Regions from separate parts of the Homo sapiens genome. Here all the other regions are linked to region 3. Evidence: fine-mapped expression QTL. A gene starts in region 3. Each other region holds a variant in brackets. All regions are shown on one strand. Distances are between the middles of the regions.

The links. PIP is the estimated chance that this variant, and not a neighbour inherited with it, causes the effect.
Region 1: its variant is fine-mapped to the expression of CCR5AS in whole blood (INTERVAL, PIP above 0.99).
Region 2: its variant is fine-mapped to the expression of CCR5AS in whole blood (INTERVAL, PIP above 0.99).

Annotation. Positions count from the first base shown.
Region 1 is chr3:46,361,284-46,369,456 of GRCh38, forward strand. CCR5AS (CCR5 antisense RNA) reads right to left here. Exons shown (of 4, transcript NR_125406.2): 4 at 2,701-3,762. Among named protein-coding and RNA genes, the nearest start is that of CCR5, 5.6 kb to the right of the region's middle. The variant T/C (reference allele first, on the strand shown) is at 3,804.
Region 2 is chr3:46,219,704-46,227,888 of GRCh38, forward strand. It overlaps a transcript of CCR3 not described here. Among named protein-coding and RNA genes, the nearest start is that of CCR1, 15 kb to the left of the region's middle. RefSeq lists an enhancer at 1,965-2,134. The variant G/T (reference allele first, on the strand shown) is at 3,424.
Region 3 is chr3:46,402,196-46,410,380 of GRCh38, forward strand. CCR5AS (CCR5 antisense RNA) reads right to left here and starts at 4,871. Exons shown (of 4, transcript NR_125406.2): 1 at 4,702-4,871. CCRL2 (C-C motif chemokine receptor like 2) reads left to right here and starts at 5,064. Exons shown (of 2, transcript NM_003965.5): 1 at 5,064-5,307; 2 at 5,873-7,328. The coding sequence starts at 5,885. The coding sequence ends at 6,919.

The DNA of each region.
Region 1 (8,173 bases), 41 kb before region 3:
GGGGTTGTTTGTTAAGAAGCACAAAAACCGATTAAGACATGTGGTATATAGTGACTTCATATATAGAATCTGGAAAACTATCCATTTATTTTCAATCATGGAATTCAATATGACAAGCATCCCGGAGGGTCTACCTATGCCAGACTGGGTTGGAAACAGAAAGACAGATGTTAATGCCAGTGTCCTTTACACCTCCAAGTCCAGGGCCAGCTGTGGAGTGGGAGGGGTAGAGAAGGTCCTGTGCACAGTCACAGTGCGCTGTGCAGAGCAGGAACAGAGGCATCTGTGAAAAGTGCTGAGAGCCTGGAGGACAGAGTGACTAATGCAATGACAGTCTTGCATCATAGGAATAACAGCCACAGCAGGATTTTATTGCTGCCAAAGAAACTGCCATTTAAAAATTGCCAGCCATCCGGGAGGCTGAGGCAGGAGAATGGCATGAATCCAGGAGGCGGAGCTTGCAGTGAGCCGAGATCGGGCCACTGCACTCCAGCCTGGGCAACAGAGCCAGACTCCATCTCAAAAAAAAAAAAAATGCCAACCATCTCTCTTTCTAAAGTGGAATCCTCAAGTCTCGTTTATTCTGGGGACATTTGAGTAGGCTGTTCGAGTTAAGCAGGTGGAAGATGATGATCCCTCATCATCATTCTGAGGGATGAGTGTCTGAAGACTTTTTGGTAAGGAAGGGTCTTGGCATAGCCCACCCCATGCCACCTCCCTTGATCTGTGATATCCCCAGCAGCTGGGGAGGTTGGAGCATTTTGCAAAGAGGCCCCGAAGCCTCCAGAAAGTAAACCTTCAAGAGCCCATCCTTCCTTCCTCTTTTGTTTTTGCTCATTATGAAAACTTCCCTGACAAATTGAAAAGGCTTCAGGTGAGATTAGCCCACAGGAAAAACCACCAAGGGCCACCCAGAGGGGCCACACTGTGACAGAAGGAGTATGGGCTGGTGAGCTGACCTCTGGAAGACAGTGCATGAATTGAGGAGAAGAGATTGGTTCCAGGCATGGGAGGAATGAGGCTGGAAATTTCTTCAGACATTGCCACTTCGGCACTCTGTGTGTGTGTGTGTGTGTGTGTGTGTGTGTGTGTGTGTGTGTGTGTAAACAGAGTCCTGTAATGCAAGGTCCGGCCTTGGCAGCCCCAGCCTGGAGCCACAGTGAGATGTGAGCCGAGGGTTATGCTGGGAAAAACCTCTCCCTCCCAGCACCTGAAAGGCTCTGCAGGCCCAGCAGCTCAGCAAGCAAGGGTAAGGGCATGGACTAACATCTTATTTCATACTATCCCTTATAACACATCCTAATGTAATCAGCTCACAATATGAAATTATTTCATTTCTCTCCAGTCATTGTTTCAATGGGGCCTTAGGGTTGACTGGATTCTGGAGGGCCCTGCCTAGAGGAGGGGGTGCATTCTGTCCCTATGTCCCCTCCTGCTCCATCCTCCACAGCACGTGCCTAGTGGTCTACCTTGTGGGGAATTCTTGTACCTCCCTCTTCTAGGCATGGACTAGCATTGAGAAGTGGGAGAGGAGTGTTAGGAAAAAGGGCAAATATAGACATACCTTGTCTTATTGTGCTTTACAGATATTGTTTTTGTTGTTGTTGTTGTTGTTTACAAATTGAAGGTTTGTGGCAACCCTGCCTCGAGCAAGTCTATTGGTGCTGTTTTTCCAACAGCATGTGCTTGTTTTACATCTCTGTGTCACATTTTGGTAATTCTCCCAATATTTCAAACTTTGTCATTATTTCTATATCTGTTATGGTAATCTGTGATCAGTGATCTTTGATGTCACTATTGTAGTTGTTTTGGGGCACCATGAAGTGCACCCATGTAAGATGGCAAACAATCAATAAATGTTGTGTGTGTTCTGACTGCTCCATGGACTGCCTGTTCCTGAGACACAATAATGTATATATAACAATTATATATATATATATTTATAACAATTATATATATATATATATATATTTTTTTTTTGAGGCAGAGTCGCACTCTGATTGCCCAGGCTGGAGTGCAATGATGTGATTTCAGCTCACTGCAACCTCTGCCTCCCCAGGCTCAGGTGATTCTCCCACTTCAGCCTCCCAAGCTGGGACTACAGGTGTGCACCATCACACCCGGCTAATTTTTTTTTTGTATTTTTAGGAGAGACAGGGTTTTGCCATGTTGCCCAGGCTGGCCTTAAACTCCTAGACTCAAACAATCCACCTGCCTCAGCTTCCCAAAGGGCTGGGATTACAGGCATGAGCCACTGTGCCCAGCCCAAGACACAATAATATTGAAATTAAGCCAATTAATAACCCTACAATGGCCTCTAAGTGTTCAAGTGAAGGGAAAAGTCCCACGTCTCTCACTTTAAATCAAAATCTAGAAATGATTAAGCTTAGTAAGGAGGACATATTGAAAGTCAAGGCCAAAAGCTCACCTCTGCACCAGTTAGCCAAATTGCGACTTCACAGGAAAAGTTCTTGAAGGATATTTAAGCTCTACTCCAGGGAACATGCAAATGAAGAGAAAACAAAGCAGCCATATTGCTAATATGGAGAAAGTTTGAGTGGTCTGGAGAAAAGATCCAACCAGCCACAACATTTCCTTAAGTCAAAGCCTAATCCAGAGCAAGACTCTAACTCTCTTCAATGCTATGAAGGCGGAGAGAGGTGAGGAAGCTGCAGAAGAAAAGTTTGAAGCTAGCGGAGGTTGGTTTGTGAGGTTTAATGAAAGACAACATCTCCATAACATAAAAATGCAAGATGAAGCAGCAAGTGCAAAGGGAGAAGCTGTGGCAAGTTATCCAGAAAATCTAGATAAGATAATTGATGAAAGTGTCTACACGAAACAACAGATTTTCAGTGTAGACAAAACAGTCTTATGTTGGAAGAAGATGCCATCCAGGACTTTCACAGCTAGAGAGGAGATGTCAAGGCAAGCTGCAAAGCTCCACAGGACAGGCTGACTCTCTTTTTAGAGGTGAATGCAGCTGATGACTTTAAGTTGAAGTAAATGTTCATTTACTATTTTGTAAATCCTGGTGTCATTAAGAATTATGCGAAATCTACTCTATCTGTGCTCCATAAATGGAACAATAAAGCCTGGATGACAACACATCTGTTTACAGCATGGTTTACTGAATATTTCAAGCCCACTATTGAGAACTATTGCTCAGAAAAAAAGATTCCTTTCAAAATATTACTGCTCTGCACCATGTCGATCAAGAGCTGTGTTGGAGATGTACGAGAATATTCATGTTGTTTTCATCCCTGCTAACACAAACATCCATTCTGCAGTCCATGGACCAAGACTTTCAAGTCTTATTAAGAAATATATTTCATAAGGCTATTAAGAAATAGCTATATATATATATATAGCCTTATATAGTTTATATAGCTACCATTGATAGTGATTCCATTGATGGATCTGAGCAAAGCAAATTGAAAAGCTTCTGGAAAGTAGTCATTATTCTAGATGCCATTAGGAACATTTGTAATTCATGGGAGGAGGTCAAAATACCAACATTAACAGGAGTGTGAAAGACATTGATTCCAACCCCCATAGATGACTTTCAGGGGTTCACGTCTTCAGTGGAGGAAGTCGCTGTAGATGTGGTGGAAACAGCAAGAGAACTAGAACTAGAAGTGGAGCCTGAAGTTGTGACTGAATTGCCGCACTCTCATGATCAAACTTGAACAGATGAAGAGTTGCTTCTTACATATGAGCAGTGAAAGTGGTCTCTTGAGATGGAATCTCCTCCTGGTGAAGATGCTGTGAACACGGTTAAAATGACAACAATCGATTTAGAATAT[T/C]ACATAAATTTAGTTAATAAAGCAGTGGCAGGGTTTGAGAGGATTGACTCCAATTTTGAAAGAAGTGGGTAAAATGCTATCAAATAGCATCACATGGTATGGAGAAATCTTTTGTGAAGGGAAGAGTCGACCAAGGTGGCAAATTGCATTGTCATCTTATTTTAAGAAATTGCCACAGCCACCCCCAGCTTTAGCAACCACCACCCTGATCAGTAAGCAGCCATCAACATCAAAACAAGACCGCCATCCTCTTCAGCAAAAACACTATGACTTGCTGAAGGCTCAGATGATGGTTAGCATTTTTAGCAATACAATATTTTTAATTAAGGTATGCACATTGGTTTTTCTGACATAATACTATTGCATACTTAATAGACTACAGTATAGGATAAACACAACTTTTATATGCACTGGGAAACCAAAAAGGTTATTTTTGAGATATTTGCTTTACTGTGGTGGTCTGAAGCTGAACTCACAATCTCACCAAGGTGTGCCTGAACCTCTTTAGCTAACTGGCCACTGCCACAGTCCACTCTGTGTTGGTCAAGATGCCCCAGAGTGGCAGGCACACTGTGTGGTCACATCCAAGGGCCTAGATATGGTGGGGGCTCCAAATGGATCTAGATATGTGAGATCTCTCTTTGATTTGACTTCTTCCAACCCACCATTTTCTGGGTGCTGGGCTCATCTCACCCAGAAAGTAGGACCCAATGTGACAGTTCCTGCCCAGTTCCCTCCTGTGGTAGCCACTTGACCCAGGGGCACTCTTGATCCTTGCAGCCTCACTTACACACCCTATCTCTACCCCTATTAACTCTCTCCAATCCCCACTCCCCCTGCTCAGCTTGTCTGCTGCCCAGTGGGGGCCCCACCCATGCTGGCCTCTCCTTTTGCAAGTCCCCATTCCTCATATGGTTTCTTCAGAGCCCCTTTCTTTGGCTTTGAGGAGAGATGCCCTCACTCGCTTCCCCACCAATCCTGCCCACTTCTACAATCCATTCATTATCCTAATTGCCTCCGTATACAGACTGGAGTGAGAGGAGTTGATGTGATGGGTGTGGATACAGGGCTGGTGCTGTCATCTTCTAGTAAGCCCTGGGAGAGGTGTCTGAGCCCAGGTGTCAGTGGTTTTCTTTGGAACTGTGAGTGCATAACACTTCTTTGCCTTCAGCCTTAGGCCATAGTTGCTAGTTCTGGGACAACCAGAAAAGCCCTACATAATCTCGTGTTATGTGCAGAGCTGAGTATAGAGCTCCAGGTATGATCTGACTCACTTAAGATCACAGTGAGTCTATTGTATTGTTGAACTGTTAGCTTAGACATCTGTTACTGTACCTACATGGCACTAGCCTCACGCCTAGACACCGATCTGAAAGAAATCCCCTAAATGCATAGAGAAGACTTCTCAGCTGAGCTAAGGGGCTCCCACCAGGTTTGAGCCTATCTAATGAATCCATGAGGTAGACAGCCTGCACATGTCCACTTGGTTTGATGAATTGCACAAATCCCTATGGGGGATGTGGTTCATGGGCTGGGAAGTGGGTTACCCTGGGAAAGGTCTACAGGACAGAGGCAGGGATGGAGACAACAGCATGGTGAGTTCCCAACCCACCCACGATGATAGGTGTCTGAGGCAGAAGGTAAAGAGGCTGTCACCTGGTGGGTGTCATAAGACTCAAGTGTCATTGTTGAGGCACATGGGTAACAAAGCGTGGCACTGGATGGGGGTAGATTCTTCCTATTTCTGTGAGGATCAGGGGGACTCCCTGGCTCTCCTGCTAAAGGTGGCTCTAGGGACAGGAAGAGTGTACTTCTTGACAGGGATGTCAGAGCACTGATGGTGACAATCAGTGTGACACTGCTCACATGACTGAACAACCGAGAAGAGCCCGACTGTCTACTGAACAACGGGAAGAGCCCGACTGTCAATGACGGAGCTCTGTTAAATATAGTTAAGGCTATTTTGTTGAATGAATGAAGCCAGACAGGAAAGAGGACAGTATCTTTAATCCATTTATAGAAGTTAAAGACAGGCTTATTTAATCTCTATGAAGACAGAGTGGCCCTTACCTCTGGGTGGAGCAAAAGGCACCTTCTGAAGTGATAGGGATGTTCCTTATCATCTTGATCCGGAGTGGTAGTTACATGCATGTGTGCATATCAAAACTCACCAAGCTGTACCACTAAGTGTGTTCTTCCTCAATAAAAATAATAAAGAACTACACTTATAAAGAATTTTTTAATAATATAGGAAAATGTCTACACTATAATCTTTAGCTAAAAAAAAAAAAAAAAGAAGCCGCCTACAGAATGGTATATGCATGAGAACAATTAATCGAAAAGTGCATGGGAAAAGTCAGGATTGAAACATCATGTTTTAAAAGACATTGTTTTGATACTGTGAGAATGTACCTAAGTTTTTCCTTTTTTCTGTTTTTCCCAATTTTATACAATGAGCATGTGTTGGTTTTATAATTAGACATTTTGTTTGTTTGGTTTGGTTTTGAGACACAGCTTGCTGTCACCCAGGTTGGAGTGCAATGGCCCAATCTTGGTTCACTGCAACCTCCATCTCCTGGGTTCAAGAGATTCTCCCACTTCAGCCTCCTGAGTAGCTGGGACTATAGGGGCGCACCACCACATCCAGCTAATTTTGTGTATTTTTAGTAGAGATGGGGTTTCACCATGCTGGCCAGGTTGGTCTCAAACTCCTGACCTCAAGTTATCCACTCGCCTTGGCTTCCCAAAGTGCTGGGATTATAGGCATGAGCCACCGCACTTGGCCTAGACATTTGTTTTTAAAAATAAAAGATTCATTTGCTCTTTTTACAGCCCGTCTCACTGTTGACTGATATTGACCAGGAGTCAACTCAGGCCCCAGGGATTTTCACAACAGCTGCTGTATGGCAGGGTTTCTGCTCACTGTGCTCATGTAGTTGGCCCTTGCACCCAAAGTGAATAATTAACATTCTCCCCATCCTGTTGACGATGCTCTGAAAATATGGTCCAGAAATGGTGTGAGCAAGGAGACAGCAAAGCAATGCTTGGAACATAGGTGCAGTGACTAGACATGGGGCAGCTGTTTAAAGACAAAAAGGCCCCAAAAAGGAGGGATGGCACGAAACACCCTCCAATATGGGCATGGAGTCTAGAGTGACAAAGTGATCAAAAGTTCATTTCCTATGGGGTGTCCGAATGTACTTAATAATAAAAAGAGAACAAGAGCCATGCAAACTGAGAGGGACAAAGTAGAAAGAGTAGCAGACACCAAGCAACTAAGTCACAGCATGATAAGCTGCTAGCTTGTTGTCATTATTGTATCCAGAACAACATTTCATTTAAATGCTGAAGAATTTCCCATGGGTCCCCACTTTCTTGTGAATCCTTGGGCTGAACCCCCCTGTCCTGAGTGGTTACTAGAACACACCTCTGGACCAGAAACACAAAAGTGGAGTAACGCACACTGCAAAGCTGTGCTTCCTTGTTTCAGCCTGTGAATCCTCACCTTGTTTCCCATCTAGCCTATATTTTTCAAACTAACTTGGCCATAGAATCATGTAGTATTTAGGGTGGAAGCTGCCCCAGGTCTAGCACGTCATTTAACAGATGAGGAAATGGAAGCTTGGGCAGTGGAAGTATCTTGCCGAGGTCACACAGCAAGTCAGCAGCACAGCGTGTGTGACTCCGAGCCTGCTCCGCTAGCCCACATTGCCCTCTGGGGGTGAGTATGTCTTCACATCCTCCAATACCCTAATGACAGACAAACAGAACATGGCAAAGCCTCAGCTCTGCATGGTGAAAGTAAGAACCAGCAATTGCCACAAACAGAAATACAGTGTTGGTCCGGCAGCCTCCGGGGGTTCTGCACAAGTGGATTACCAGTGAATACAAGGCTATCTATCTTTCGAAAAACCAAAGTTGTATTTATGCTATCTATTTTCTATAAAATTTTATATTAATTTATTTGTTACCTATTTTTGAACTCTTTCAAAAGCACACTTTATATTTCCCTGCTTAAACAGTCCCCCGAGGGTGGGTGCCCAAAAGGCTCTACACTTGTTATCATTCCCTCTCCACCACAGGCATATTGAGTAAGTTTGTATTTGGGTTTTTTTAAAACCTCCACTCTACAGTTAAGAAAACTAAGGCACAGAGCTTCAATAATTTGGTCAGAGCCAAGTAGCAGTAATGAAGCTGGAGGTTAAACCCAGCAGCATGACTGCAGTTCTTAATCAATGCCTTTTGAATTGCACATATGGGATGAACTAGAACATTTTCTCGATGATTCGCTGTCCTTGTTATGATTATGTTACTGAGCTCTGTTGTAGCACAGACATATGTCCCTATATGGGGCGGGGGTGGGGGTGTCT
Region 2 (8,185 bases), 180 kb before region 3:
ATCTTTGACAAAGCAAACAAAAACATAAAGTGGGGAAAGGACACCCTTTCCAACGAATGGTACTGGGATAATTGTCAAACCACATGTAGAAGAATGAAACTGAATCCTCATCTCTCACCTTAGACAAAAATCATCTCAAGATGGATAAAAGACTTAAATCTAAGACCTGAAACCATGAAAAGTCTAGAAGATAACATCAGAAGAACTCTCCTAGACATTGGCCTAAGCAAAGAGTTCATGTCCAAGAACCCAAAAGCAAATGCAACAAAAACAAAGATAAATAGATGGGACTGAATTAAACTAAAAAGCTTCTGCATAGCAAAAGTAATAATCAGCAGAGTAAACAGACAACCCACAGAGTGGGAGAAAATCTTTGCAAACTGTGCATCTGACAAAATGGTGAATATCCAGAATTTACAAGGAACTTAAATCAGCAAGAAAAGAACAAATAATCCCATCAAAAAGCGGGCTAAGGACATGAGTAGACAATTCTGAAAAGAAGATACACAAGTGGACAACAAACATATGAAAAAATGCCCAACATCACTAATTATCAGGGAAATGCAAATCAAAACCACAATGCAATATCATCTTACTCCTGCAAGAATGGCCATAATTAAAAAATCAAAAAATAATAGATAATAATAATAGATGTTGGCAGGGATGTGGTGAAAAGAGAATATTTTTACACTGCTGCTGGGCATGTAAACTAGTACAACCACTATAGAAAACAGTATGGAGATTCCTTAAAGAACCAAAAGTAGAACTACCATTTGATTCAGCAATCCCACTACTGGGTATCTACCCAGAGGAAAAGAAGTCGTTACAATGAAAAAGGCACCTGCACATGCATCTTTACAGCAGCGCAATTCACAATTGCAAAAATATGGAACCAAAGTAAATGTCCGTCAACTAACGAGTGGATAAAGAAAATGTGATATACATATACCATGGAATTCTACTCAGCCACAAAAAGGAACAAAATAATGTCATTCCCAGCAACCTGGATGGAGTTGGAGACCATTATTCCAAGTGAAGTAACTCAGGAGTGGAAAACCAAACATCCTATGGTCTCACCTATAAGTGGAAGCTATGCTGTGAGGATATAAAGGCATCAGAATGACATAATGGACTCTGGAGACTTAGACGGAAGGGTGGGAAAGAGACAAGGGATTAAAGACTACACGCTGGGTGCAGTGTACACTGCTTAGGTGATGGGGGTACCAAAATCTCAGAAATCACACCTAAGGAACTTATCCATGTAACCAAACACCACGTGTTCCCCAAAAACTATTGAAATAATAAAATAAAATGATGCACATGAAGAATTTAGCAAATAATGTAAACTCAACAAACTCTGTTATTATGGTTACCTAAACTCTGTTAGACCCACCTTCGCCTTAGTGATATTAAGTTCACAACTTGAACTTGGCCACGGAGAGTATTTACACCAAGGAAACTGGAAATTGATGCTATTATATCAGGCATGTTGTGCCTGTTTTGATTCTTCCTCCAGAAAGCTGGTTGTTAACATTTACCAGCACACCATTGCAGAGTACCTATAGGCCATGAATGTACAGGGAAGATGTTTGCATTTCTTTCATCTTAAGTCTTCAAGGACAAATGGATCTGACAACAGCAACAAATACTGTATCTGAGTTTATATAAATCTTTGGTTTCAGCAGAAATAGCTTTTACTTGAATATCTGCTCTTCCCACTAGCAGCTGGGGCCTGATTCCCTAGTTGTAGGGGTATTCCTGCACATGCAAGATGCACCCCTCACATGCCCCCCGCAGCCCAATCCTTCACAAAGAGAGGTCCTGACCTTGGCTGGGCTATGTTTCAAGTCACACAAACAGTTCAAACCACACGGCTCTGCCTGCAGTTGAGGCATCTTGAACCCAATTTGCACTTCCCTTTTCTAGACTTTTAGTCTTATTCCTGTCTTCCTTTTCCCTCTGTGGGTTATTCTGCGGGGTGGGCTATTTTGTTTTGCTTAAGCCTTCATTTTTGAGCTTGCTTTCCTCCAAGAACCCCTGGCAGGTTTCCGGTTGTTGAAATGCACATTCACTTCTTCCAAAGGATCATCCTGTGTTCTTTTGCCCCTTGCAAAGCAGACCTACCCAAGACCACTGAAGACAAAGAAGGGGGTCCATGAAGGAGTGTGTCTGGGCCCCTGACTGGCCGCCACCCCTCACTTAGCTCTGCCTGCCTTTCCTCTTCCCGTGTGCCCCCTAGTCCCTCCCCAGCCCCTCTCTTGCCACTGCTGTCCACACAATTTCCCACAGGCTTCCTCCACACAAACTGGCACTGAAGATTCCCCCTGAGGACTGGGCAGGAGCCCTGAAGGTCAGATAGGCAGGCCTCCCAGGCTGTCCCACTCTCTAGGACAATAAGGCGTGACACTCTCCACATCAAAGGACCCATGTCTGAATTCCTGTTTCAGAGCAGTGAGACAGAGGAAGCAGGACCATGTATCATGCCACACCACCAATCCATATCAACACAGCAGCCACAGAGTATGGCACACCTAGGGCATTCCTGGATGGCCATGGTGGAGGTGGGGAGATGGGGGTTTCATGGGGATAGATGAACTTCTAGCTAGACTGGGCAAGTGATGGGTCCAGTATGATAATCTGGAGAAGTTACAGGGGCTGACAGGCAGCCTGGTTGCGTTACTTTCTCTTATTTAATTTGTCGCCCTCTTGCTGCTGCCTTGCCTCTGAAGCTACCTATCAGGAAGCCCTAGGATTCTTCTTGAAGGGTACTGCCAGGCTAGTAGAGAACTCAGGAGAAAAACCTCCAGAGTCCCTTAATCTTTCAGGGCCCCACCCCACAGATCTAGTGCCCTAGGTCCTGGGCTCTAACTTCAGACATCATGCATGGCCAGGCATGCTGCGCTCCTCACCTTGTTCAAGCAACAGACAATGGCAGCACCTTGCCACAGGCAGCAAGTCCTCCAGCACACCAGACCTGGCACAGCCCTCAGATGCCAGCCATGCCACCTTGGGCATTTTTATTTACCGCTTGTCAGAACCTCAGCTTCCCCACGTTTAAAATAGTGAGAGTAATATTTCTTTCTCAGGATTGTTGCAATAATTAAATATGATTCAATATGTGTCTGGCACTTGGTAAATGTTCAGCCGATGGGAGCTACGTGGCTATTTATTTCCTCATCCTATGCCTCAGTCAAACTGGTAAACATCTGTTGAATGTCTCCTATGTGCAAGAAAATTGTCAAGAAACCCTTCATGCTAAAAAGGGGAAGGAGAAAGTATATTAAGGAAGTGCTCTAAAAACTCCCTGTCCAGGTCCAGCCCAAGTTAACACTTACAGTCTTGCATGCCAAGTTTTAAAACTCTTTTGAGGCCAGGTGTGTTGGCTCACGCCTGTAATCCTAACACTTTGGGAGGCTGAGGTGG[G/T]TGGATCATGAGGTCAGGAGTTCGAGACCAGCCTGGCCAATGTGGTGAAACCCTGTCTCTACTAAAAATACAAAAATTAGCTGGGTGTGGTGGTGGACATCTGTAATCCCAGCAGAGGGAGGAGAACTGCTTGAGCCCAGGATGTGGAGGTTGCAGTGAGCCGAGATCGTGCCACTGCACTCCAGCCTGGGTGACAGAGCAAGACTCTGTCTTGAAAACAAACAAACAAACAAATAAAATCTCTTTTGAGTCTGGGCTTACATACAGTCTAATACACAGCATTTTATATCATGTTATCTGTATTACATCTTTTCTCTCCAGCTAAATTGTAAGCTTCTCAGCTGCTGGGCCCATGCCCAATCCTTTTTCATATGTTTTCCACAGTACCCAGCACTGAGATGCATATATATAAGAGGTGGTCAGTGTAAGGACTTGCTGATTAAAGTTGATGCTTGTGTGTGTGCATGCATGTTGTGTACATGCATGCAGGTGTGTGTGTGCATGTATGTATGTGTGACTATTGATAAGTACAGTTTGACCTCTTTTATTCAGAGTGACATTATCACGTGTCACTTGTATCAATCTGTTTTCCCTTTCAGCCTGCCTCAGTTTCAGGAAGCAAGAATTCTTTTGGCTCCTGACAAAGAAGGGAGAGAGACATTTTAGATCCCATGGCTTGCCTGAAACTTGGCCACGGACAGGGTGCTGGTGCAGGTATGGGACATGGATAGAGGTACTAGAGGACAGTGGATGACTTGAGCAGGTTCAGAAACATAAGCCCAGAGGTGTCGGTAAATAGAGTCTCCATCGGGTGTGATCAGGGTGTGCCAGGAGCTGGGTAGAAAGCAGCATGAGTGCCCACAGCCAGAAACAGCTCAGGGAGAGCTCTTTCAAATAAAGGGATGCATATACAAAATCGATTAAATACTCCTGCCAGTTAATAAGAAAAGGACCAATGGCCTCTTGTTTTTTAAATAGGCAAAAGACTTGATTAGAAACTTCATAGATGAGGATATCCAAATAACTAACATGTATGTGAAAATGTGCTCTGCATCACTAATCATTTGAGAAATGCAAATTAAAACCACTGGTTTTAATGAGACGAACCAATGAGACAGCAGCACATAACCACCAGAATGGCTAAAATGAAAAAAACGCAAAACAACATCAACAAAAAACCAAACCCTGGGCCAGGCACGGTGGCTCACACCTGTAATCCCAGCACTTTGGGAGGCTGAGGCAGGCAGATTACCTGAGGCCAGGAGTTCAGGACCAGCCTGGCTAACACCAACATGGTGAAACCCCATCTCTAATAAAAATACAAAAATTAGCTGGGCACGGTGGCTCACACCTGTAATCCCAGCACTTTGGGAGGCTGAGGCGGGCAGATTACCTGAGGTGAGGAGTTTGAGATATCCTGGCCAACATGGTGAAACCCTGTCTCTACTAAAAATACAAAAATTAGCCAGGCATCGTGGCACACACCTGTAATCCCAGCTACTTGGGAGACTGAGGCAGCAGAATTGCTTGAGCCTGGGAGACGGAGGTTGCAGTGAGCCGAGATCATGCCACTGCACTCCAGCCTGGGCAACAGAGCAAGACTCTGTCAAAAAAAAAAAAAAAAAAAAAGCCATCAACAACAAAAAACAAACCCTGACAATAGACAATACCAAGTATTAAAAAGGTTATGAGGCAATGAGAACTCTCACACCATGCTGGTGCAAGTATAAATTGGTACAACCACTTGAAAAATTGTTTAGCAGTATGTAAAGCTAAACATGTGCTTTCCCTGTGACCCAGCAATTCTACTTCCAGGTAAATACCCAAGAGAAGTGCACATAAACCCAAAAGATGTGTTCAAGAATGTTGTTAGTAACTTTATTCATAATAGTCTCAAACTGATAGTCCAAAATTCTTATCAGTAGTAAAACAGATAAATTAGTCATATGAGAGAATACTATATATAGTAATATAAAAGACCAAACTATTGCTACTGCATGCTACATAACCTCATTTATAATGAATTCAATAATGGTCAAAACTGATCAGCAGTGATAGAAATAAAATAGACATGACCTCTATGGAGGTGGGTACTGACTGGGAAGAAGTGCTAGGGAACATTCTGGGGTTCTAGTAATGTCTTGACTGGTGGTTACATGGGTATGTGCACATGCAAAAACTTAAGATTTAGGCATTAACTCATTAGGCATCTTACCATCTCAATCTTTAAATCTTTGAACATTTTTTAGGTAAATTGTCCATGGCATGGTGGCACCTGCCTGTAATCCCAGCTACTCGGGATTACCCAGCTACAATTGCTGGGTTGTATTGTAAGCACGAATTTAGTTTTGTAAGAAAGTGCCATGCTCTTTTTCATAATGGCTGTATTATTTTATGTTCCCAGCTGCAAAGTATGAGTGATTCATTTTCTCTGCATCCTTGCCAGTGTTTGTTTTACTATTCTTTATTTCAGCCATTCTGATAGGTATGTAGTAACATCTCATGGTAGTTTTAATTTGCATTTCCCTAAAGACTAATGATATTGAACATCTCTGTATGTGCTTAGTGGTTATCTGTATATCCTCTTCAGTGATATGTCTGTGCATATCTTTGACCATTTTCTAATTGGAATTTTTGCTTTTTTGCTTTTGAGTTTTGAGAATGCTTTATATTCTAAACAAATATTTTGTTAGATATGTTGTTTGCATTTTTGAGTTACTTCTTGTATAAGGTGTGAGGTTTAGGCTGAGGGTCATTTTGTTTTTTGGTTTATCTACGAATGTACAATTCCTCAAGCACCATTTTTTGAAAAGACTATCCCTCCATTTAATGGCTTTACACCTTTGTCAAAAAACAGTTAAGCATATTTGTGAGTCTAGTTCTGAGTTCTCTATTTGTTCTTTGATCAGTATGTCTATCTCTCTGCCAATATCACTCTATCTGGATTACTGTAGCTATATAATACGTCATGAAATCAGGTAAGTGATTCCTCTCACTTTATTATTGTTTTTCAAAATTATTTTAGCTATTCTAGGTCCTGTGACTTTCCATATAAACTTAAGAATAATAAGCTTACAAATGGCTATAAAAATTTCACTGGAATTTCTATAATATAAATTTCCCTAAACCTTGGATTAATTTGGGGAAAATTGACATCTTTACTGTTGAGTCTTCTAATCTATGAACATGGTATATCTCTCTATATTTATTTAGGTCTTCTTTGATTTATTTTATCAGCATTTTGTAGTTTTCAGCATGCAAGTCATGTACATACTTAGCTAGAGTTATACCTAAGTATCATCTAAAAGCTTTTTGGAGCAACTGAAAATGGCACAAAAATTGTTAATTTTGGCTTCCACATGTTCCTTAGTACATATAAATGTGATTGACTTTTGTTTCCTGGTTTTGTTCCTGCAATCTTACTGACCTTGGGATTTTCTATGTAGACCGCTATGTCTTTCCTAAATAATAGGGACAGTTTTATTTCCTCCTTTCCAATCTGTATGCCTTTTATTTATTTTTCTTGTCTTACTGCACTGGCTTAAACTTCCAGTTGAATAGGAGTGGTGAGAGTAGACGTCCTTGCTTTGTTCTTGATCTTAGAGGAAAACATTCATTCTTTCTCCATCAAGTATAATGTTTTCTCTAGACTCTTTGTAAATGCTGTTTATCAAGTTGAGGAAGTGTCTTTCTATTTTTAGTTTGCTGAGTGTTTACCATGAATAGGTGAAATATATATATATATATATTTTCTTTTTTAATTGAGATGGAGTCTTGCTCTTTTGCCCAGGCTGGAGTGCAGTGGCATGATCTCGGCTCACTGCAACCTCTGCTGCCCAGGTTCAAGCGATTCTCATGCCTCAGCCTCCTGAGTAGCTGGGACTATGGGTGCATGCCACCATGCCTGGCTATTTTTTTATTTTTCGTATTTTTAGTAGAGACAGGGTTTTGCCATGTTGACCAGGCTGTTCTCAAACTCCTGACCTCAGGTAATCCCAGCCCCTGCCTCAGCCTCTCAAAGTGCTGGGATTACAGACCTGAGCCACCACGCCCAGCTGAAACATTTTGTTAAATCACTCTGTCATAGATATTTTATCTATGTCAATATTCAACAAACTAGTTTTTCTGAATTGTTGAATTTATGATAATAAAGTAGTTCATAGTATTCTATTATTATTCCTTTTAATGGCTGAAGAAGCTGTAGTAATATCCCGTTTTATTTCTGATATTGGTGATTTATGTCTTCTCTTTTTCTCTTGTATGTCTTGCTAGAGGTTTATCACTTTTCTTGATTTTTTTGAAAAACTGGCTTTTTGTTTCCTTGCCTTTTTTTCTCTTGCATCCCTTGTGATGGAAGTTTCTTTGATTTTTATCTACTGTTTTTCTGTTTTCAATTTTATTTATATTTTCTCTTTATTTTTGTCTCCTTTCTACTTGTTTTGAGTTAATTTTGCTCTGCATTTTCTGGTTTCTTGAGGAAAGAACTTGGATTATTGATGCGAGACTGTTCTTTTCTAATGGAAGAATTTAGCGCTGCATATTTTCCTCTCAGAACTGCTTTAGCTACAGCCCACATACCTTGATATATTATTATTTTGTTTTCATTTAGTTCTGTATATTTTTAAATTTCCTTTGAGACTTCCTCTTTGACCCATAAATTAGTTAGAAGTGTTTTTACATTTTCAAGTGTTTAGAGATTTTCCTGTTATCTTTCTGTTATTAAACTTTAGTTGATTCCACTTTGGCTTGAGAACATACTTGG
Region 3 (8,185 bases):
AAATCTGTATTTCCAGGGTGGATTATCAACACAGCTGTATTTTAGAAATATTATCTGCCCTCCCAGGTATCACAGCTACTAATTATTGGGTACTGAGGTGGAATTTTAGGGATCAGCCAATTATGGGAAAGAAAATCTGGGGGCAGGATAAGATGGTCTCCGAAGCCTTAAAATTATATGCCATTATTTACCTCTTTGATCTACTACTCAATATCAAACAACTAATTCAGAAGAAAATTGATTGTTTTCTAAAAGTAGTTTTTCTACATTTCCCATTAAGAAGCAGTGGTATTTAAAACTTATAATGGCTATTATGTGAGATTATCACTATCATAGTTTTTCTCTATACAAATTTTCTGTAACATTTTATTTGCTAATAAAAATTAGATAGATGGATTGACTAATTGATAATCTAAGAAAGATTATATTTGAAGAAGCCATAGTAAGGGACAGATTAAATTATCATCAGTCTAAACATTCTAATACCTATTTCTCTTTTTTTGAAATTTTCCAAATTTGTTATTATGCATTTAAACAATAATTTTTTGAACTTTTATTTTAGGTTCTGGGGTACATGTGAAAGCTTGTTACGTAGGTAACCTTTTGTCATGAGGGTTTGTTGTACAAATTATTTCATCACTCAGCTATCAAGCCCAGTACTCAATAGGTATCTTTTCTGCTCCTCTCCCTCCTCCCGCCCTCCAGTCTCAAGTAGACCCCGGTGTCTGTTGTTCCCTTCTTTGAGTTCATGTGTTCTCATCATTTAGCTCCCACTTATAAGTGAGAATACAAGGTATTTGGTTTTCTGTTCCTGTGTTAGTTTGCTAAGGGTAATAGCCTCCAGCTCCATTCGTGTTTCCACAAAAAAACATGATCTCGTTCTTTTCATGGCTGCATAGTATTCCATGGTGTATATGTACCACACTTTCTTTATCTAATCTGTCATTGATGGGCATTTAGGTTTATTCCATGTCTTTGCTACTGTGAATAGTGCTGCAATGAACATTCACATGCGTGTGTCTTCATGGTAGAATGATTTATATTCCTCTGGGTGTATACCCAGTAATGGGATTTCTGTTTTTAGCTCTTTGATCTAATACCTATTTCTCAAGATCAAGTTAGATCTCTAAAAAAGGCATCATCCTAGCATTTCCCCATCCCTTCCCTGAACTAAATTTAATGTTGTGTGTATCAATCAGCATACAGTCAAGACAGAAACCACACATGAACATTAAATATAATGAGTTATTAACTTATAAAAGGGTATGAACTACTAAAGGGGGTAAGGAGAATGCTGAAGAATGCAGGAATGGCAGATGTAGAGAGCAGCCATAACCTCTAAGCTAAGGCACAGCAGCCAAGGAAGGGGCGAACTCAAAAAATGCCCTCCCTCCCCAGCTGATCCACCCTTGTTGGAGGGGGTGTGGCTGCAACCCAATGGATGCCCAAGAAGTTTGCAGAGTTGTGGCAGGTTGGGGCTGCTGAGCAGGAAACTGCCCGAAGGGGTACCAGTGAGATTCCCAAGAATGTGGGCATGCCTCTGGCGAGGAAGACGCTCTTGGAGTGCCAGCAAAATTTACTAGGAAGCTACCCAGTAGGGTGCCAGCAAAAGTCAGCAGGAAGCCACTGTCGTGGTGTCGGCAAAATTCACTGAGGAGTGGGCACTGCAGGGTCTCCACCCAGCACTGGCAAATCAGCCAAAAGAACAAAAACAAAATAAAAACAAATCCCAGAACCAGAAAGAAAAAACTCTGCCTCTTACTGCGACCCTCTTATGCCTTCTACAGCAACTGGCAAAGGAGAAATGTTTATGGGGTCCAGCTCTAGACTCACAAAGCAGAACACAGAAGAGTGAATGAAGAGCTGAAAGGCGATAAATCAGTAACTGGAGCCTCACATCCTTTGCCTTTTTTATTGAGGGTCAATATATTAAGAAGAATATGTCTGCGTCTTCGGTAAAATTATTGCTAAGGTTATCACCCAGTGTGTGTTTTCAACCTCCCTGATATAAGAACTTAGTGACAAGAAAGAATGAGACAATGATCATGAACTATTGGACCCAACCATTTGTGGCTTTAGTGCCCATCTTCTCAGCAAGGCTTTCTCTCTCTCTCTCTCTCTCTCTCTCTCTCTTTTTTTTTTTTTTTTTTTTTTTTTAAGATGGAGTCTCACTCTGTCACCCAGGCCGGAGTGCAGTGGCACAATCTTGGCTCACGGCAACCTCCACCTCCTGGGTTCGAGTGATTCTCCTGCTTCAGCCTCCCGAGTAGCTGGGATTACGGGCACCCATCGCCACCCCTCCTGGCTAATTTTTGTATTTTTAGTAGAGATGAAGTTTTGCCATGTCGGCCAGGCTGTTCTCAAACTCCTGACCTCAAGTGATCCACCCACCTCAGCCTCCCAAAGTGCTGGGATTACAGGCATGAGCCACCACAGCCAGCTCTCAGCAAGGCTTTTTCTGACTACACTATTTAAAATGTGATCCCTGAGCCACCTTGGCCTCTCTTGCTGTCCTTCCCTGCTTCGCCTTCTCCATAGCACTTCTCTCCTACTAATCTACAATTTACTTGAGCTCTGTGAAGGTCAGGATTTTTGCCTATTTTGTCCATTGGTGCATCCCCAGCACCTGGAACAGAGCTAGGCACAGGCTAGGCACTCTAGAAATACTTGCTGAATAATTGAATTAAGTAAATGAGTGATCTACACGTAGTGGGGAATGAGAGTATACAGTGATAGTTCCTTCGACTAAAACTGGGGTCAAATTATAGTGATAAAGAGGAACTCAGACCTTCAGAGGTAAGCTTTGTGGACCACTTGCCAAGGCTGCAGAATGTGATGTCGTTTCACAAACAAGGAGGCCCTATTATGGCTTCAGATATGAGAATAATAAAGAGAACTTTCCTTTCGCCTCAACTGCAGCCTTCTAAACTCTTCCTTCCTTCCTATGTAGAAGTTTCAAGGACCTCATGGCCTGAGTGTGGATAGGCAGAATGCTGGGAATCAGGCAAAAATAAAATAATACTGAAAGTGAAGGTCATGCTAATATTAGTAAGCCAGGGTGATCCTGAATTTACAAAACATTTTTCTTTGGGAAATTTCACACCTCACATGATTCTGTGTTTTTACTTGGGAAATTTCACATCTCACATGACTCTGTGACATGCGGTACATGAGGTGCCTGACTGCTGTTTTTGTCCTCTACTAATGAGGAAGAGTGTGCGTACTCCCAGCGTTTTGCAAGTTTCAAAGTCTGACTTGACTTTCCTTCCTTTTCCTGGAACTGATCCATGAGTATCGAGAGTAAAGCTGCCCGCACCTACTCATTCAAGATCCTGAGTGTCCTGCCCAGCTGCAGGAGGTGGAGAGACCCAGGAGGAGGGGCCACTGCTGATCCCAGGCTGTAGGGGGTGGGAAGAGTGTCCCAGGGCACCATGACCCCCACTCACTCACTCACAGGAGACCCACACAAGAGAGGAGAGGGCACTTACAGCTTAGGTTCCCACCAGCACCAACTCCTCTGCCATCAAACATCATTGTGTTTCTCTTTCTGCCTTGTCTGTCGGCACACGTGGAGTTAAATTTAATGCTCAATCACATATTTGTCTGGGCTCTTTCTGTGTTTATTTTTCTCTTAATAGTTCTCTCTCCTCCCTTCCTCTCCCCGCCCCTCCTCCTCCTTCTTCTTTTTTTTTTCCAGAGACAGTGTCTCGCTCTGCCACCCAGGCCAGAGTGCAGAGTGGCATGATCATGGCTCACCGCAGCCTCCAACTCCTGGGCTCACGTGAACATCCCACCTTGGCCTCTGGAATGTCTGGGATTACAGGCACTTGCCACTGCATCTGGCTAATTTTTATATTGTTTATAGATCCGGGATCTCACTATGTTGCCCAGGCTGGCCTCAAACTCCTGGGCTCAAGCGACCCTCCCACCTCATACTTCTGAGTAGCTGGGGCTGTAGGAATGCGCCTCAGTGCCAGGCTAGTTTCTTAATTTTCTATTTCTATTTTGACAGGTACAAATTTTGTATTCAATCCTACCTCAGACACATCTTTGGTGGGAAAAGGATGTCATTTAATCAATATATAAATTCTAAGCAAATAGGTCTGATCCCCAAATTAGGTTAGTCACAGCTGCTGAGTCGTTGACCCAAGAGAAGCTCATCTAGATTTTTTCATTATTTTCAAGTTCCTCTTCTCGGTTCGTCCTTCTTCCAGACCGTGCCCTCCCCGTCCCACTCTCTTCCCACAGCCTCCCCTCCCCACAGCCTCCTCCCACCATTCCAAATCTGGGCTGTTCTCTCAATTTCCTTCTCTCTGGACTCAAACCTACCCTAGCCCCCAGCCTCAGTTTGGGGTTAAACTTGTCCTCCTCACATTCTCTCCCACCCAACTTGATGTCGCCTCTGTGTCATCACCACGGGATTTTCCTCCTCTGGGTTCTCCTTTTCCGAGTGGGGTCAGCTCCCCCATGAGTCACAGCACCAATCACTTCTGGCTGCTTGCAAACCCCTTTGCTTTCCTCAGTGTTGACACCCAGGGCAGCCCTATGCTCACTGCCGCTGAGACCCCACCTCTGCCCCTGGCCTTTTCCCAGCTGACATCACCCTGTGGCTTCCATTTTCCTAAAATTCTCTTTTGAGGCCTCAGTCTTAACCAAAGCACACAGTGCCCCTCAAAAATGACAATAAAAACCCAAACACACCGTGACTGTCATGGCAGGTTCCTGGTCCCCGTATTGAATCAGCGGGTGGGTTTCTGCGAACACTGGTGAGAGGCCGCATTAGAGGGTCAGGACCCTCAGGTCTGGACTCGTGGTCACCACATACCTTCCTCCCTGCTGACAGTAGCTGGTACCTGTTACCTACTCAGAGTGTCACATGCCACAAGCCAGAGCGTCTTGGCAGTTCTCAGCACCTTGACATCACTTCCTTGCTACCACTCAGAGCGGCAGTGACACAGTTCCCTTATCTCAGAAGGCCAGAAGACGGCTGTCAAAGGTCACAGGGAAATCAAAGGCGGGGTACAGGGCCAGAGGGAGGAGGAAACAACTTCCCGGTTGCTTTCAGACGCTTCAGAGATCCTCTGGAGGCCTGGGGGAGCTTTTGAGTACTTTATTTCAGTTGGTCCCTGAGCTCGGTGAGTGGGGCGGGTAGAGCCACCAGGGGAATCAACAGTGGTTTCTCGTGCCCCTCAGGGTCAGGAGCAGTCTGATCAAAAGGAGGGCATCCACTGTCCGGGGCCATTCCCACAGCTCCCGGATGCTGGGTCTGGAGGCTGCGCCCTTCCCCTGCAGGAGCTCAGCCCAGTGGTAAGTCATCTGTGTGTCATCTATGTATTTAACCCCTTATGGCCATGTTGATGCTGAGCATGGTTTCACTTTTGCAAACATTTATTTATACCCTTCGAGAGAAAAACGTCTCAGCTGTCACAGGAAGCTGCTTCGGGGGGTGAGCAAACTTTTTAAAATGCAGAAATTATGATCTACACCCGTTTCTTAAAAGTAAGCCATCGTACTTGGTTCTCTTTAATTATATATTTTCTTACATATTGTGTTCATGTAGGCAAGTCCTGTTTCTGCTAAAAGAAGGTAAGTTCTACCAAGGCGGTGTCATGCCAGCTTTATTTCCCGTGGCACCTGGCACACTGCTAAGCACTTACATGCTTAACAACTAGATTGGGAATGGTGCTGCTCTGGGGAAGTGGGCACACGTTAAAGAAATGTTTATTTCAGTCTTCTGAAATAGGGAATTACTCTGGCTAAAATGTAGCTCCAGAAAGGGAAAGTGGGGCTGTATGAATCCAGGTCCAGTTTGTTGTTTCCTCCAGGATAAGGCAGCTGTCGGAGGGGAAAATCATCTCCCATTTCTCCACAGGGCAGTCTGAAGATGGCCAATTACACGCTGGCACCAGAGGATGAATATGATGTCCTCATAGAAGGTGAACTGGAGAGCGATGAGGCAGAGCAATGTGACAAGTATGACGCCCAGGCACTCTCAGCCCAGCTGGTGCCATCACTCTGCTCTGCTGTGTTTGTGATCGGTGTCCTGGACAATCTCCTGGTTGTGCTTATCCTGGTAAAATATAAAGGACTCAAACGCGTGGAAAATATCTATCTTCTAAACTTGGCAGTTTCTAACTTGTGTTTCTTGCTTACCCTGCCCTTCTGGGCTCATGCTGGGGGCGATCCCATGTGTAAAATTCTCATTGGACTGTACTTCGTGGGCCTGTACAGTGAGACATTTTTCAATTGCCTTCTGACTGTGCAAAGGTACCTAGTGTTTTTGCACAAGGGAAACTTTTTCTCAGCCAGGAGGAGGGTGCCCTGTGGCATCATTACAAGTGTCCTGGCATGGGTAACAGCCATTCTGGCCACTTTGCCTGAATTCGTGGTTTATAAACCTCAGATGGAAGACCAGAAATACAAGTGTGCATTTAGCAGAACTCCCTTCCTGCCAGCTGATGAGACATTCTGGAAGCATTTTCTGACTTTAAAAATGAACATTTCGGTTCTTGTCCTCCCCCTATTTATTTTTACATTTCTCTATGTGCAAATGAGAAAAACACTAAGGTTCAGGGAGCAGAGGTATAGCCTTTTCAAGCTTGTTTTTGCCATAATGGTAGTCTTCCTTCTGATGTGGGCGCCCTACAATATTGCATTTTTCCTGTCCACTTTCAAAGAACACTTCTCCCTGAGTGACTGCAAGAGCAGCTACAATCTGGACAAAAGTGTTCACATCACTAAACTCATCGCCACCACCCACTGCTGCATCAACCCTCTCCTGTATGCGTTTCTTGATGGGACATTTAGCAAATACCTCTGCCGCTGTTTCCATCTGCGTAGTAACACCCCACTTCAACCCAGGGGGCAGTCTGCACAAGGCACATCGAGGGAAGAACCTGACCATTCCACCGAAGTGTAAACTAGCATCCACCAAATGCAAGAAGAATAAACATGGATTTTCATCTTTCTGCATTATTTCATGTAAATTTTCTACACATTTGTATACAAAATCGGATACAGGAAGAAAAGGGAGAGGTGAGCTAACATTTGCTAAGCACTGAATTTGTCTCAGGCACCGTGCAAGGCTCTTTACAAACGTGAGCTCCTTCGCCTCCTACCACTTGTCCATAGTGTGGATAGGACTAGTCTCATTTCTCTGAGAAGAAAACTAAGGCGCGGAAATTTGTCTAAGATCACATAACTAGGAAGTGGCAGAACTGATTCTCCAGCCCTGGTAGCATTTGCTCAGAGCCTACGCTTGGTCCAGAACATCAAACTCCAAACCCTGGGGACAAACGACATGAAATAAATGTATTTTAAAACATCTATTTAATGTATTTTAAAATAATTTGTAAGTTGATTTTAAAACCAATTTAACTACATTCCAAATTATAGACAGCCCATTTATATGGGAGTAACTTTTCAGGCTCATTGCCTCGCCGGTGATGAGAAGAACTAGCTAGCTGGAAGCTGTGGGAAAAAGAGGTAAGGTAACTTGTTCTGTCGAAGTTCTCTAAATTCTCTTGCTTACTTGCCACACCCCTAGGCCCCCAGCTTCCCCTAACCCAAGGTTTCTGGTATTTTCTCGTACTTTATCAAGACTATGGAATCTTAGGAGACTTAACAAAAGCAAATGAGAAATTATGTTTAGAAATGTCTAACAAAATGAATGCTTTGTCCTTTTAAGTATAACACATACCTCAGGCCTCACCAGCACATAACTACAAAAGGTTGTCCCACTTCCTTTCTGTGGCTGAGTTAGTAGAACACAGGCTCCCACCTGCCACATCAGCAGAAGGTCACCTCAACATGTGAGCTACCTCCCCGGAGACCCCCCAGATCCGTAAGGATGATGCATCCTTGATCCTAAAAACATTTTCCTGTTCCTGGTGTTCAGAATTGGACTCCACACTCACTGGTCTCTTTATAATCTTGCTTCTGGCCCTTTGAGGCCTCAAAGCTACCAGGGCCTTGCTGCCAGGGGACAATCACCACTCCCGGCTGAGTCCTGCAGACATAGGGCCTGGGCTGGCTGCCTCCTCCTGCTGGCCCAGCATCTTGCTTGCACTAAAGAGAGCTGGAGGCTTGGCACTGATGCTTGCTAAAAACCTACCCAGGCCGCCCACTGCTGCCGCACTGCAGGGCACCAGCCCACACTCCTCCCCTCCTGGCATCAGGCACACGT